2 linked regions of the Homo sapiens genome follow. The protein of the gene in region 1 binds, or shares a complex with, the protein of each later gene. Links are inferred from orthologs where the notes say so. Each region holds a gene or a part of one and is shown on either strand. Other genes may lie near its edges.

Evidence for each region. Proteins that work in one complex are often made in the same cells at the same time.
Region 2: the proteins of ARL3 (region 1) and CFAP36 are in contact, whole or in part, in a crystal structure (PDB 4ZI3), measured with the Mus musculus proteins. The link is inferred for Homo sapiens from one-to-one orthologs. Residues at the interface, in NP_062692.1 of Mus musculus: Leu3, Leu4, Ile6, Leu7, Arg8, Lys9, Leu10, Lys11, Ser12, Arg19, Lys35, Glu40, Pro47, Thr48, Gln49, Gly50, Phe51, Asn52, Ile53, Lys54, Trp66, Ile74, Tyr77, Ser80, Tyr81; in NP_080016.1 of Mus musculus: Glu44, Glu45, Ser46, Lys47, Leu48, Thr51, Glu52, Lys58, Val61, Glu62, Leu65, Glu76, Phe79, Gln80, Cys83, Thr84, Ala88, Lys89, Leu97, Val100, Leu101, Ala103, Glu104, Asp105, Phe106, Thr107, Ile108.

The regions. Positions count from the first base shown.
Region 1 is NC_000010.11:102,711,367-102,719,219, forward strand, and holds the start of ARL3 (ADP-ribosylation factor-like protein 3), read right to left. Parts: upstream 3,032-7,853; 5' UTR 2,910-3,031; coding exon 2,907-2,909; intron 2,796-2,906; exon of another isoform or gene 2,432-2,795; coding exon of another isoform or gene 2,429-2,431; intron 1-2,428. UniProt on the Homo sapiens protein: Small GTP-binding protein which cycles between an inactive GDP-bound and an active GTP-bound form, and the rate of cycling is regulated by guanine nucleotide exchange factors (GEF) and GTPase-activating proteins (GAP).
Region 2 is NC_000002.12:55,515,478-55,522,717, reverse strand, and holds the start of CFAP36 (cilia- and flagella-associated protein 36), read right to left. Parts: upstream 3,001-7,240; 5' UTR 2,917-3,000; coding exon 2,802-2,916; intron 2,314-2,801; coding exon of another isoform or gene 2,239-2,313; intron 617-2,238; coding exon 552-616; intron 1-551. UniProt on the Homo sapiens protein: May act as an effector for ARL3.

The sequences.
Region 1 (7,853 bases):
TCTGTATATATATATGTATATATATGTATGTGTGTGTGTGTTTTTATATATATATATGTATATACATAACACTGCACACAGTTTCAGCTAGAAAATAGGAACAGGCCGGGCGCGGTGGCTCACGCCTGTAATCCCGGCACTTTGGGAGGCCGAGGCGGGCGGATCACGAGGTCAGGAGATACAGACCATCCTGGCTAACATGGTGAAACCCCGTCTCTACTAAAAACACACACACACAAAATTAGCCGGGCGTGGTGGCGGGCGCCCATAGTCCCATCTGCTGCGGAGGCTAAGGCAGGAGAATGGCGTGAACCCGGGAGGCGGAGCTTGCAGTGAACGGAGATCGCGCCACTGCACTCCAGTCTGGGTGACAGAGCAAGACTCCGTCTCAAAAAAAGAAAAAAAAAAGAAGAAAACAGGAACAATACTTACATCTCAAGAGATGATGCTATGAGGATGAAATGAGGTCATGTATGTAAAGCATGACACATAACAGCCACTGAAAAGACTACCCTCGTGTTTTGTTTATTTTTTTAAAATAATTTTTCACGGGCCATTTTCTAACCAGAAAACATAAGTAACTGTTGGGAACAATCTTCAAATGTTGAACATGCTTGAGAACGACCACAAGCTCCATATATGTAGAAAGTGCTCCATAAATAATTACTGAATGAAGGAATCATATGTTAAATATAAGTGGTTAGTTACGTGCTAAAATTACTGTCATTTTAGTATTTTAGTAATTCATCAAGAACCTGGCACTGTAAAGCAGGGGTAAAATAGCTGACTCTAAATGTTCAGAGAAACCCATATTTGGGTTTTTGCCACAGTTACCCAAATTTGAAAAAAAATATGTATTTGTCACAGCTGAAGTTTAAAACAAAAACCAAAAAAACCTTGGGGTTCACGCTTCAGTTGTACAGTTAACCATGGGGGCTCATGGGATACCAGATGGGATACACTTAAGTCACACGACTGACTAAATTCAGTGTTTCACTTCAAGTTTTAAGAACAGCTCACGCTTGTGGAGATAGAAAAAAAATGTTTTTGGGAAACCAGATAAAGAATCCGGAATAATTTGTCTTAATTTCTTATTGTTCATCTTAGGAAAAAGGAAAAAAGAAAAACAAAATCTGTTTTCATCATTGAACACAACAGTTGTATACAACAGTGTTGTATATACACTGTAAATTTGTTGTATACTGTGCCAATTTGCACCTGGAAACATGGGCAGTGGTTAATTTACTGTGGCCTGTAATTATAAATTAAACAATCATGGATTACACAGTACACTTAATTGATCAACAAACTGGGAAAAGTTAGCCAACTCTCATGCACTTCTCATCCATAATGATGAATCTCAATCTCTGTTGGTTCGGCATGCCCTTTTCATTCCAATTCTAGCTATTTTCTGGGTAAATATTTATGTTTGTACTCATTTGTTGAGAAAAACTTTAACTTTAAAAGGACAGCTCACGTATAAATGATTAAGAAAAAGAAACAGTTGTAAAAATCTGTTTAGCCTGAGGTTAAAAAAAAACTGCAAGTGTAGCAAGTGTGAAATGTGATTGGCAACTTCAGATCAAATAACCCTACTTCTTTAACAATCTGACAATGTAAAATCAATTGAGTTTTTTTTTTCCTTTCTAAATCTACTCACTGGATAATCTGACCAAACATACATCTATTTTTTTTTTTCCTGGGCATCTAGTTTTTTTGTTTTTTTTTTTACTTCTTAAATCAACAGAAATGGCTCAACATTTCTAAAAGTCAAGAAAGGAACTAGGAAGAGAGTTGGAGCAGTGACTATAAGTTTGATGACAGGCTCTTTGCAGCCAACTAACCTGCTTTAAGTGTTCAAAATCAATTTTTCTTTGATAGCTCTAAAATTACTCAATTCCATTTTAACTCCCTCCAACTAACTGTACAGACATTAACAAGAAACAGAGTGTCAACGGTCAGATCTGTCACAACCATAATTTAGAATTTGGGAAAGCTTTAATTGGGACTGACAGAGAAAAGCCTTGCCCCGGATTGAAGTTCGATCTCCATTTTTAACTTCTCGTTCTTTTCAGTTTGGAGAACTCAAGCTAGGATTAAGATCTTTTGGTCCTGGTATGGTCACACGCAAGAGGAGACTGCAAAAGGTTTCGAAGGAAATTCTAGAGACGGAGCAGCTAATATGTCTTCATCAACATGGATTATGTATTGAATGAAAAATCGGTCATCACCAACAATCAGATCCTGCAAAACTCTCAGCAAATAACTAAATAATTCGGGACTGAGGAAGCGCACCCGCCACGCAGACACCAAGACGGCGTAAAATCCACCAGGCATCCCTTCCAAGCGGCACCCCTTTGTGTCGTGGGACTTACTTCCCTACCCCCCAGGGGCCCGCACAGCGCGAGAAGGAGGAGAGCTAGGCTACCATCTCCCCTGCTACCGCCAGGGCGACCTCAGAGCCAATGGGGCCGGCCTTCTCTCCGCTTCTGGCCGGGCTCCAGACGAACCCCACTTTACTGCAAAGCCGCGAGACCGATTGCCCGGGAAGTCTAAGCCTGCTAGCGAAAGCTGCTCTCCGCAGTTCCTGGGATCCGCCCTCACCCCTGTCCCCAGAGTAATGATGGAGCCCGGGCTCCGCACCCGGCCAGCCGCGCACTCTGCCAGCCCCTTCCCCAAGCCTCGGACCCGCTGCAAGCCCCGCCTTCCTCTCCAGGCCCAGGCCTCCCTCCAGGGCCCACCCTCGGGTCTCCCCGCCGACCCCCGAAATCAGTCCACAACCCAGATAGCAGGCTGAGCGACGTCCCATTCCCTCCTTGGCTTTAAGCGCAGTGCTCCGCCCTGGGCCTGGGGACGGGAGGGGGATAACCGGCCGGCTCCAAGGGGGCCCAGGCCCCCACACTCACCATCCTCCCGCCGAGTCCCTCCTCCTCCTCCTCCTCCTGCTGCCTCCCCCGTTACCAGGGGCAACTGCTGCGGCGCCGCCCCCGACGTCCCTCGCACGCACAGCTGAGGAGCTGAGCAGCAATACGGGGCGGGGTGCAGCTCCGCTTTCCCCAGAGTGCGCAAGTGCGCTAAGGCGCCCGCCCACGCAGTGGGCGGGCTACGGGAGCTGCAGAGGCCGCCGCCGGCTCGCCTGGACCAGGGAGTGGAGAAAGCCTGCCCACGTGGCTGGCGGGAGCCTCCCGGCCTGGGATTGGTCGAAAAGGAGGGGCGTGGGGCGGGCGTGGGGGCAGTTCCCCAGCCCAGGTCCTCCTCTCACCCGGGCCAGTTTTCAAGGCGGGCTGTAACTGGTGGCATTTGTCCCGGGACCAGGTAAGGGGCCTTGGGACAATGGCGCTCGCCCTGTCTACCTCCAATCCCCACATCTCGGGTGGGTGCTGAGATTGCTGTCCTGACTGCCCAGGCGGGGCTGCAGCGCGGGCTGGACTTCCACCTGCAGAAGCCACGTGGCGCGAAGTGCGCCCTGGGGCTGCAGATGGGCCCCTCTGCTCTGACCCCCATTGCCTAGGAGTGCCAGGCCGAGCGGCTGGGGCGTTACGAGCTGTCCGGGATGGGGGAGTACCGATGGGGGGAGGCCGTCTGTCGGAGGGCAAGAAGCAGCCTGGGGGCTGGCCCTGAGCCCTGAGGTGAGCTGAAAGCACAGGTGAAAGGCGTTTTGGGGATCGGCCCGGTTTTTGTTTTGACACAGGGTGTCGCTCTGTCGCCCGGGCCGGAGTGCGGTGGCGCGATCTCGGCTCACTGCAGCCTTTGCCTCACAGGCTTAAGCGATTCTCCCGCCTCAGACTCTCGAGTAGCTGGGATTGCAGGCGGGCGCCACCACGCCTGGATAATTTTTTGTATTTTGTTTTTGTAGAGACGGAGTTTCGCCATGTTGCCCAGGCTGGGCTCGAACTCCTGGGGTCAAGCCATCCGCCCGCCTAGGCCTCCCAAAGTGCTGAGACTACAGGTGTTCCAAAGTGGTGAGCCACTGTGCCCAGCCTCTGGCCGGTTTTGCTAAGCTGCTTTGGACAGGACCGCGTACCATCTGTAGTCCTGGAGGAGGCAAAAATGAGCCTGCATTTTTAGCCAAGGAAGAGCAAGTGGGACACTGGGGTGGGTTGGGAAGTGCTACCTCCCATCCCTTTCCCGATGCAGAGGACTATAAGAAGAGTTTACACAAACGTGCTAGGCCCTGTTCTAGACGCTGGAGACACAGCAGTGGACAAAATCAGCCCGTATGGAAATTACATCCTTCCTAATGAAATACATTTCATACCAAATTTCATTTTCACAACCCCTAGAAATTGGTAATTGCGGCCAGGCGCAGTGGCTCATGCCTATAATCCCAGCACTTTGAGAGGTGGAAGGGGAGGAAGGCTTGAGCCCAGGAGTTGGAGACCAGCCCGGGCAACACAGTAGGACCCTGCCTCTACAAAAAAAAATTTTTTTTAATTAGCCAGGTTCCGTGGCGCACTTGTAGTCCTAGCTACTCGGGAGGTTGAGGCTGGAGGATTGCTTGAGCCCAGGAGCTATTATCACATCACTGTACTCCAGCCTGGGTGAAAGAGCAAGACCCTGCCTCAAAAAAAAAAAAAAAAATGAAAACAAAAATCAACATCTGCTGCTTGCATACCTGCTTCAGATCCTTGGAGAGAAAAAGCAGTTCAGAGCCTTGACTAAGGAGGTGATGAATGGAGGTGATACAGGAGCACAAACCCCTATAATCTACTCATCTCCAGACTGTTGGCCCTTTTGTGAAAAAGGCAAGGGAGGTTGCTCTTTCTAAGTTGTCTGGTGCCTAACAGCCCACTTGCCTTGGAGTCAGACGAGTACCCATAAGCCTATACCTGGGCCTGCTCTTGTAATTATTACCCTCATTTTCCAGCTTGCTCTAGGCAGCCTTGACCTTAATCCTTGCCTGTCTCAGTGGTCTTTGTGTCTGACCTTCTGGGGTCTTTGGCTACCTTGATCTTCCTCTGATGTGAGTACCAGCGATGATGTTTCGTTTTTCTCCCTACCTGGGGCTACAAACAGTAATCTTGTGCACTTCTGCTTGTAAGAGGATACCTCAGAAGGAATTTGGAAGCTTGTTTTCTGATCTCTGATACCATTTGCCAGAGAAAATCTGCTCTTTCTGGGAAGGATGAGCATTACGTCAGAGGTGGCAGTAGTCTATTACTTTTTTTTTCTCTTTGTTTCCCTCTCTTTCTTTCCTTTTTTTTTTTTTTTTTTTTTTTGAGATGGAGTTTCACTCTTATTGCCCAGGCTGGAGTGCAACGGTGCGATCTCGGCTCATCACAACCTCCACCTCTCGGGTTCAAACGATTCTCCTGCCTTAGCCTCCCAAGTAGCTGGGATTACAGGTATGCACCACCACGCCTGGCTAATTTTTTATTTTTAGTAGAGACGGGGGTTTCTCCATGTTGGTCAGGCTGGTCTTGAACTCTCAACCTCAGGTGATCTCTCTGCTTTGGGCTCTCAAAGTGTTGGGATTACAGGTGTGAGCCACCGTGCCAGGCCTCGGAGTTGGCAAGTAGGCTATAGTGGATAGAGGACCTTGGGGAAGTAAGGCCTTAGCTGTTGTCCAATCTTTGAGGACTGGATCTGTTGATTGTTCGTGTTTATATCTGCTGCAAGCGCTTAGTGCAGGGCCAAGTGTATCAAAAATGCCCACTGTGGTGGCCCAATCCATGTGCACCTTTCTAGGCTTCAGTTTCCTCTTCTGTAAACTGAGATCTTAGATCACATGTCTTCAGGCTATGACATTCTCTCTCTCTTTTTTTTTTTTTTTTTTTTTTGTGGAGACGGAGTCTCGCTCTGTCACCCAGACTGGAGTGCAGTGGTGCGATCTTGGCTCACTACAACCTCCGCCTCCCGGGTTCAAGCGATCCTCCTTCCTCAGCTTCCTGAGTAGCTAGGATTACAGGTGCGTGCCACCACGCCTGGCTAATTTTTTGTATTTTTAGTAGAGACAGAGTTTCACAGGGTTAGCCAGGATGGTCTCGATCTGACCTCGTGATCCGTCCGCCTCGGCCTCCTAAATTGCTGGGATTACAGGCGTGAGCCACTGCGCCCGGCCTCAAGCTGTGACATTCTCTAATCCTAGGAGGGAGATATCATTAAATCACTGGTCTGATTTTTACTCCTACTTTGTTCCTAGTAGTGGGACCATACAGAAGTGGGGCTACCCTGGACATGATGATGACCTTTTTAGGGAAGACTAGATGTGGCTTGTGTGGGAGGAGGGACAGTAACTGTAGAAGAAAATTTAGAGACCAGTATGACTTAGTACAGGCAAGGTAGACAGTTTTGCAACTTCATGAAAGAAAGCGTGCTCTTAATTCTGTAACCTAGGCAGGTTCTAAGTTTGACTTAAAAGAGGTGACATCCTTGATGCCAAGAGACCCAAGAAGAAGTTGGAATGCATTTCAGGTAAGCAGTAAATATTCTTCGAGGGCATGTGAAACATGTAGCAGTAAACATCACAGACATGATCCCGATGCTTGTGAGCCTTACAGTCTGTCAGGGGAGGCAGACTTTACACAAATCACAGTCAATGACAAGAAGGTGACAATCACAAACGCCCAGCATGCTGCAAAGGACAGGATGCTGTAGGAGTATATATCACAGAAGGATTTGAGTTTGTCCTGAAGGAGTCGGGGAAGAGTGCCCATTGGGGGACAGTGGGTGTGTGGGGGGAAATGTTCCAGACAGATCGTTTAGTGTTTTTTTTGTTTTGTTTTTGTTTTGGCTTTATGTTTTATTTAAGACAGGGACTCTGCAGTTTCTATCCTGACTTCAATTAAGAAGGCAAAGGCTCTTGCATAATTAGCAAATGTTTAGATTACCCCTTGATGATAGTCCCTCCATTCTGAGAAGCAGAGGACTTTGCAATGTTGTGTTAAGGTGAACAGAGATGTCAGAGAAGGTCTGGCTCTGTGTGTATGTGTGTGCTGAGGGGGAGGCATAGCATTTTGCTCAGTCAGGCTGTCTCCAGCATGTATGAGCCTGGGGCTCTGTAAGCCAAGGCAGCGTGTGTTCAGCCAGCCAAGCTGACTCCTTTTAGGTTCATGTAGAGCATGGGAAAGTGAACTCTTTCCCCTCCTCCCACTCTTGCTTCAGCTGGGACTGAGATAAATGCCTTTGGTCTTTGAAGCAGCCTGCAGGAGGCCAGGTGGCAGGGAGAGGGGAAGTCTGTTTTGGCAGTGGACTCTTTCTGTCTGCCTTCTGACTTCTCTGGAGATTGCCGCTTCAGAGAAGCATCGGGGCCAGGCCAGGGCGCTGTGGATACTCCATATTGAGCCTCTCCTCTTGTTCCTGGTCTTTCCTCTTAGGAAATGGCGTACCTCCAGCATATCAGCTTCCTGATGTCTCTTCCGCCTTAACGAAAAATCTAAAAATTGACCACTGCTCTTCCTTCCCCAACACTGTCCCTTCTGCCTCCTTTCTTGAACTTGAACTCCTGGCCTCCCAAAGTGCTGGGATTACAGGCCTGTGCCTGTCTCCACCTCCTTTCTCTCTTCTTTCTGGTGGTTCTTCCCATCTTTGGGGGCTTCCTTTTCTCGGCTTCTTTTTTTTTTTTTTTTTTTTTTTTGAGACAGGGTCTTGCTATGTTGCCAAGATGGAGTGCAGTGGCGCCATCTCGGCTCGCTGCAACCTTCACCTCCCGGGTTCAAGTGATTCTCCTGCCTCAGCCTCCCAAGTAGCTGGGATTACAGGCGCCTGCCACCACGCCCGGCTAATTTTTTGTATTTTTAGTAGAGACAGGGTTTCACCATGTTAGCCAGGCTGGTCTCAAACTCCTGACCTCGTGATCCGCCCGCCTCAGCCTTCCAAAGCACTGGGGTTACAGGCATGAGCCACCGTGCCCG
Region 2 (7,240 bases), on another chromosome or scaffold:
GCTCTGGAGTTCCACACCAGCCTGGGAAACACAGAGAAACGCCATCTCTACAAAATACAAAAAAATTAGCAGGGCATGGTGGTGCACACCTGTAGTCCCAGCTACTCAGGTGGCTGAGATGGGAGGATCGCTTGAGCCTGGGGAGGTTGAGGCTGCAATAGGCTGTGATAGTGCCACTGCACTCCAGCCTGGGTGACAGAGCAAGACCCTGTCTCAAAAATAAAAAATAAAAAAATCACATGACAACCATGACGAAGTGAATAATTAATATGTCCCTGGATGCGTCAACAAAATAAGAATAAGATATAAAGAATACATGCAAGAACCCATAAAGAGTTGTAAAACCATTCCTTAGAGTAGAGGAGATAAGTCATCCAAATGAGATATTCAGAGCACCTGTGGAGACAGATATAACTGGCACTATTGTTAAGGTAGATTGGATTTTTGTAAAATTAAGGATTTTTAATGTAAAAATATTTTTCTTCATTTAGAAAAGCTATAAGTAGTATTAGCCTAATTACTTTTAAAAATCAGTGAAAAAAAATACTCACTAGTTCTTTGTATTCCTGATGAATCTCTGTATAGGTCAATTTGCTTTCTTCTTCATCATCAAAAACTAAATTTAAAAGAAAATATTACATAGTGTAAAAACCAAATCATTTTATTAATGCAAATTTAAAAATCCACTCCTTCCAAATAGAACTGTCAACCTAGCTCTTCAGCTTTGAATTCTTAGGGTTTATCTTTTAAAAATATATAAATGAATATATCTAAAAATATATACTATTGGCCGAGCACTGTGGCTCATGCCTGTAATCCCAGCACTTTCGGAGGCCAAGGTGGGTGGATCACCTACGATCAGGAGTTCGAGACCAGCCTGGCTGATGTGGTGAAATCCCATCTCTACTAAAAATACAAAAATCAGCCAGGCGTGGTTGTGCGCGCCTGTAGACCCAGCTACTCGGGAGGCTGAGGCAAGAGAATTGCTTGAACCCAGGAGGCGGAGGTTGCAGTGAGCCAAGATTGCACCACTGCACTCCAGCCTGGGCGGCAGAGTGAGACTCCATCTCAAAAAAAAAAAAGAAAAAAAAATATACACACACACACACACACACACACACATATATACTATTAATTGTAAACAAGCTTTTTTGCCTACTTGAGAAAATATTTAAAATGAATACTACCTCATATTTAAGACAAAAACACATTTCAATCAATATGAGGCAATAATTTCTTCATAACTTTTAATGTAATATTATTGTTAATGGTTAAATCCTTTTACAATAGGTTCCATATTATTTTATTGTACTGGAATTTTGCTGATGTAAATGTTACTGAAAGTGACCAGGCAATTTTTGTTACCACAGATAAATAATGAAGTTAAATAAAATCAAAACAAGTGTTTACTGAATGATCATATGTATAAAACAATGCAGTGAGCCAAGATCACGCCACTGCACTCCAGCCTGGGCAACAGAGCGACACTCTGTCTCCCAAAAAAAAAAAAAAAAAAGGAGTACAAATACAAGTTATTTTGTTTTTGAACATTGTTAAAAAATTACCTGTAAAAATAACACTTTAATAACTACGATTTGAATATTGATTATAGCAATGAAAATGTAATGAAAAGATTCAGTGGTCAAACTGAATTTCATCTTTACCAGATTCATGATATCTTGGAATTTAAAGAAGTCTTAAAAGGTCATCCAGGATAACCGACCATTTGATAGCTGAATAGCTGAATCCCTCTAACCCTATTAAGTCGCTATCAGATCCATTCAAACACTGCTGGAGCCGGGAAGCTCATTACCTTCTGAGGCTGGCTAACTCATCTTGGATACATTCTATCATGAAACACTTCCTTCACTGAAATTTGTTTCCCTGTAGCTTGTACCAACTGACCCTAGCTCTATTCTACTCAACCTTACAACACAAAGCAGATGTTCAAATAATTGATGAATACTACTACCCTCAAAGTCTTGCCCGATTAAACAACCACAATAACGCTTGGGCACTCATTTATATGACGTGGTTTCTGGTTCCTTTTCTGCGAATGGGCTGCAAATAGTCTCCACGAACTGAATGCAGAACTCCAAGCCTGAAGAACTGCTCAGAACCCGGAGATGCCTGTCCTTCACGGGGAATATTATGCCATATCTATACGCCTCATTTGTTCCAAGAATGGTCCTGCCCCACCTCGCCAATTTTTGGTATAGCGAAGAGTAGAGAGCTCACCAAGGGGAACACAGGCCACCAAAATCACCGGCTCTGGGCTTCCTGGAGTTATCACATGCCCTCCTTTGCAGTTAACTGTTGGTTTGGAGTGAAATCATTTCTCATTTCCTAAGCTGACTACACCGGGCGAAATGCTAGGGATCATAAGGAACTCAGGTAAACCGACGCTTCTCCTCTCAAGTCTGGCAAAGCTGTTGAAGAAGCCCAGCCAAACAGTCCACCTGCCGAGGGCAGAAACGTTCGGGACAGGGTGAGAGACCGAATTTACGATTCAAGTCTAATGTTCTTCGGACGTGCGCTTCGGCCCCAGAGAAGGGGAGTCTCGGTCCCCGTTTTCAGGTCTGCGAAGGAACACATTGGCAGGGTGAAAGGAATTCCTCCCACACAACCAGCTCTAAACCTGATGACGCGGGTGGAGAAGGTGGTGAGGGGAACGAGACCTTGCGACAGGGGTGGAGACAGGGGGTCGGGGAGACGAGAGATGGCTTGTGGTTACCAACCCCCTGCCCGCCGCTGGTGTGAGAGAGGAGAAAAGGATTGTCGGTTCGGGCTCTGGTTTTTACCTTCACATTTCTGTTCCACAAAGTCCAAGATGGGGATGGACCAGTCTGGGCCTCGCAGGAACCCCGCGATGCTCTCCACTACCCACTCCACCTCGTCTTCTTCTTCCGCAGCCATCCCGCCCCAAAGGGGCAACGGGGAAGATCCCTAGGCCAGACCGCCGGACCCCGGTTAGGCCTTTGGGCCACAAGGAGCCGAGAGGGAGTAGGGGAAGAGCTGGCCCGCAGTCGCTCAGCCCCCAGGATAGAAGCTACCAACCAGTTAATGCAAAATGGTCGCTATGGCAACACACGTAGCCGCCCTAGACCGCGGCCCGGAAGTGAAGACAACTTTCCAGGAGCCTGCGCACTTAGCGGGGAGGGCAAACGTTTGAAAAACGTTTCTGATTGGTTAAAAAAGAACAGTGGACGAGGGCTGAGAAAAGAAGTGTAGCTATTGGCTGGAAGTCATAGACAGATTGCGCTCTCTCTTCTGATAAATGCGTAGGAGCCAAGGTTTAGAAAACGCGCAGTAGACGGGCGCGGTGGCTCACGCCTGTAATTCCAGCACTTTGGGAGGCCGAGGCTTGCGGATCACCTGAGGTCAGGAGGTCGAGACCAGCTTGGCCAACATGGTGAAACCTCGTCTCTACCAAAAATACAAAAATTAGCCTGGCGTGGTGGCGCCGCCTGTAATCCCAGGTACTCGGGAGGCTGAGGCAGGAGAATCGCTTGAACCCGGGAAGCCGAGGTTGCAGTGAGCCACTGCACTGCAGCCTGGGAGACTGCGTCTCAAAAGAAAAACAGGAAGAAAGAAAAGAAAAAAGAAAAGGCTCAGTGAGGGTCTGAGGTAACCGGGTCTCCACCTGACAGGGCTTCAGCGGCTGCAGTTCATCATTGTATCCCCAGCACCTCAGTCCCAACCATTTTCAGACCATTGGCCCAGAGGCGTTTGTAATTAAAGGGTTGTCTGAAAATACAAAGCCGAGCTGTGTGAGACTCGCTGATTGTCTTACGGTCAGTTTGCATCTGTATCTTCAGGCGGGTCTTTAATCTCTTACGCTTGGATAAAGATAACTAGAATTAGGAGCTTTTCAAGGGCAAGAGCAAAGTTAATACTCACTTAAATAAATGCCTTGGTAACCAAATCTTATTATAACTCCAACTCAGCATTTAGGTGGAGTCCATTGTGGAATGGGGTCTTCAGTGGTCATTGTGAAGGTGTTTGGAGTCCCAAAATATCTTCAGACAACCATATATATATATATATTTTTTACATAAATAGGATTATATGTACAGTTATGAATTTTTTTCTTATATCTTTATCTTTTAAAAATATAAATTTGTGCTTTCTTTGCAACTGCATAGTATTCCATAAACCATCCTTTAGTCTATTTTTATTTTGTGAATGTGCACACAGTATCTTACCTGAATGCATGAAGATGATCATTATGTGCCTTTTTTTTTTTTTTTTTTTTAGACAGAGTCTCGCTCTGTCGCCCAGGCTGGAGTGCAGTGGCGTGACCTCAGCTCACTGCAACCTTAGCCTTCTGGGTTCAAGAGATTCTCCTGTGCCTCAGCCTCCAGAGTAGCTGGGATTACAGGCATGTGCCACCACACCCAGCTAATTTTTGTAGTTTTAGTAGGGACAGGGTTTCGCCATGTTGGCCAGGCTGGCCTCGAACTCCTGACCTCAGGTGTTCCGCCTGCCTCGGCCTCCCAAAGAGTTAGGATTACAGGCGTGAGGCACCGTGCCTGGCCATGTGCAATTTTTTTCTTTTTCCTCCTCCGTGCTGTGGATTTGCCATTTTTTGCTTCCACAAACTGCTGTTATAAATGTTGCATCCTGAGAACTGTTGGTTTTATTTACTATTCCAAGGGATAGATTCCAGCAGAATTGCTAAATGAAAGAATATATATCTTGGTTAATTTGACCAAACCTCAACTGCTACATTAAATTACTTGAATTTTTTAAACCCGTAAACAATTGTGTAATGAATATACTTGCACATATGTTTTTGAACCCTAGTCTCATTATTTCCCTCGAACAAATTCTCATGGGAAAATTACTGAACTAATTATTTTAATTATTATTATTATTTTTTTTTTTGAGACGGAGTCTCGCTCTGTCGCCCAGGCTGGAGTGCAGTGGCGCAATCTCGGGTCACTGCAAGCTCCGCCTCCCGGGTTCGCACCATTCTCCTGCCTCAGCCTCCCGAGTAGGCGGGACCACAGGCGCCCGCCACCACGCCCGGGTAATTTTTTGTATTTTCGGTACAGACGGGGTTTCACCATGTTAGTAGCCAGGATGGTCTCGATCTCCTGAGCTCGTGATCTGCCCGCCTCGGGCTCCCTATTTTAAATATTTTTAAAAAATAGTCTTTGCCAATCTACTAGGTTAAAATGATAGCCCCCCCCACAGCCCTTTTTTTTTCTCGAGACAGAGTCTCGCTCTGTCACCCACGCTGGAGTGCAGTGGTGACATCTTCGCTCACTGCAACCTCCACCTCCCGGGTTCAAGCGATTCTCCTGCCTCAGCCTTCCAAGGAGCTGGGATTACAGGCACCCGCCACCAAGCCTGGCTAATTTTTGTATTTTTAGTACGGGCAGGGTTTCACTATGTTGGCCGGGCTAGGCTGGTCTCAAACTCCTGACCTCAAGTGATCTGCCTACCTCGGCCTCCCAAAGCGCTGGGATTACAGGCATGAGCCACCACGCCCGGCCTCATCCACACTCATTGTTCAGCATTAGAGTCTTTCTTTGTCTTCAGTCTCTTCCAAATGCTTCTCAATTCCACTGGAAGCAGATAACTATGATGTAAGAGTTTTCCTTTCTTTTATTTTCTTAGCCTTGTTTCTAAATCTCTAAATCTAAATGGGCAATGTGGATTCCTTCAGGCCTGCAAGTTCTCTCATTTGTTTCAAAATATTTTATTATTTCATTTTCTCCTTAAAACATAAGGCTTTTCTTTTTATTCATTGCTTGAGATTCTTATAAGCAGGATGCTTACACAGATTTGAGATAATGTATTCAATACGCTTATCATAAAATAAACTCAGAAGAACAGCTTGCACACTGTTAGAGCAATGCATATGGATGTACTGGGGCAAGAGTAAGAAGATAGCATGGGTGTGTGTTACGCATAGGTCATTTAGCAGTGTTTTCAGTGTTTCACAGTAATGCAAAGCACAGTCATCTCTTGGAAAATCACAACTTATTTTGGCAATTTTATTACTCCTTTTACTGTTCTTACCACATAGGAACAAATTTTAATGTTAAAGATATGTATAACAGGCCGGGTGCGGTGGCTCATGCCTGTAATCCCAGCACTTTGAGAGGCCAAGGTGAGTGGATCACTTGAGGTCAGGAGTTTGAGACTAGCCTGCCCAACATGGCAAAACCTCGTCTCTACTAAAAATTAGCTTGGCGTGGTGATGGGCGCCTGTACTCAGCTAATTGGGAGGCTGAGGCAGGAAAATCGCTTGAACCTGGAGACAGAGGTTGCAGTGAGCCGATATTGCACCTCTGTACTCCACCCTGGGCAACAGAGTGAGACCCTGTCTCCAAAAAAAAAAAAAAAAGATACATGTAACAAAACTAAAATAGATGCACACACATAAATAAATATATATACACAGTACATGACACACATACACACACCAAGCACTTTTACCATGGGGTTGATAAAGGCTAGGATTACAGGCGTGAGCCACCGCGCCTGGCTGAGAACACATATTAAAAGTACTTGGGATTATGCTAGGTACTTAGTAAATGCTTAATACATATTAGATATTGTTATTGTATGTAGTTTAGGTATCGGTTTGCTTAAAAATTTGCAGCATGAATGCAAGGAACTATTCATTTTATTTTGCCTCTTCTTTCAATGACAAATCATTTGTGTTTTTTGCTGCAGCCCTAGGAAATCTCTTGCTTCTCCCCATCCCCTGTACTGATACTGAGTGTCTGCCCTACTAAAGGAATATAAAATTCAAATCGTAACAACATGACTGCATTTTCAAGGACCTTGTGAATAACAATTATTCACATTTATATAGTACTTTACAGTTTACAAAGAGATTACATCTATTTGACTTACAGCAAACTTGTGAGCTAAATAAAGATGATATTAAGATTTTCTCCCTCTTTTAAATGGTGTATTAGTTTGCTAGGACTGCTATAACAAATTACCACAGACTGGGTGGCTTGAGCGGCAGACATTTATTTTCTGAAAGTTCTGAAGTCTATGTCTCTGATCAAGTTATTGGCAGGGTTGGTTTCCTTTGAGGCTTCTCGTCTTGGCTTGCAGATGGCTGTCTTCTCCCTGTGTCTATACCTGGTCTTACCCCTATACAGCCTATGTACTAATCTCCGTTTCTTATAAGCATATCAGTCATATTGGATTAAGGCCCCCTAATAACCTCATTTTAACTTAATTACCTCTTTAAAAACCTTATCTCCAAATA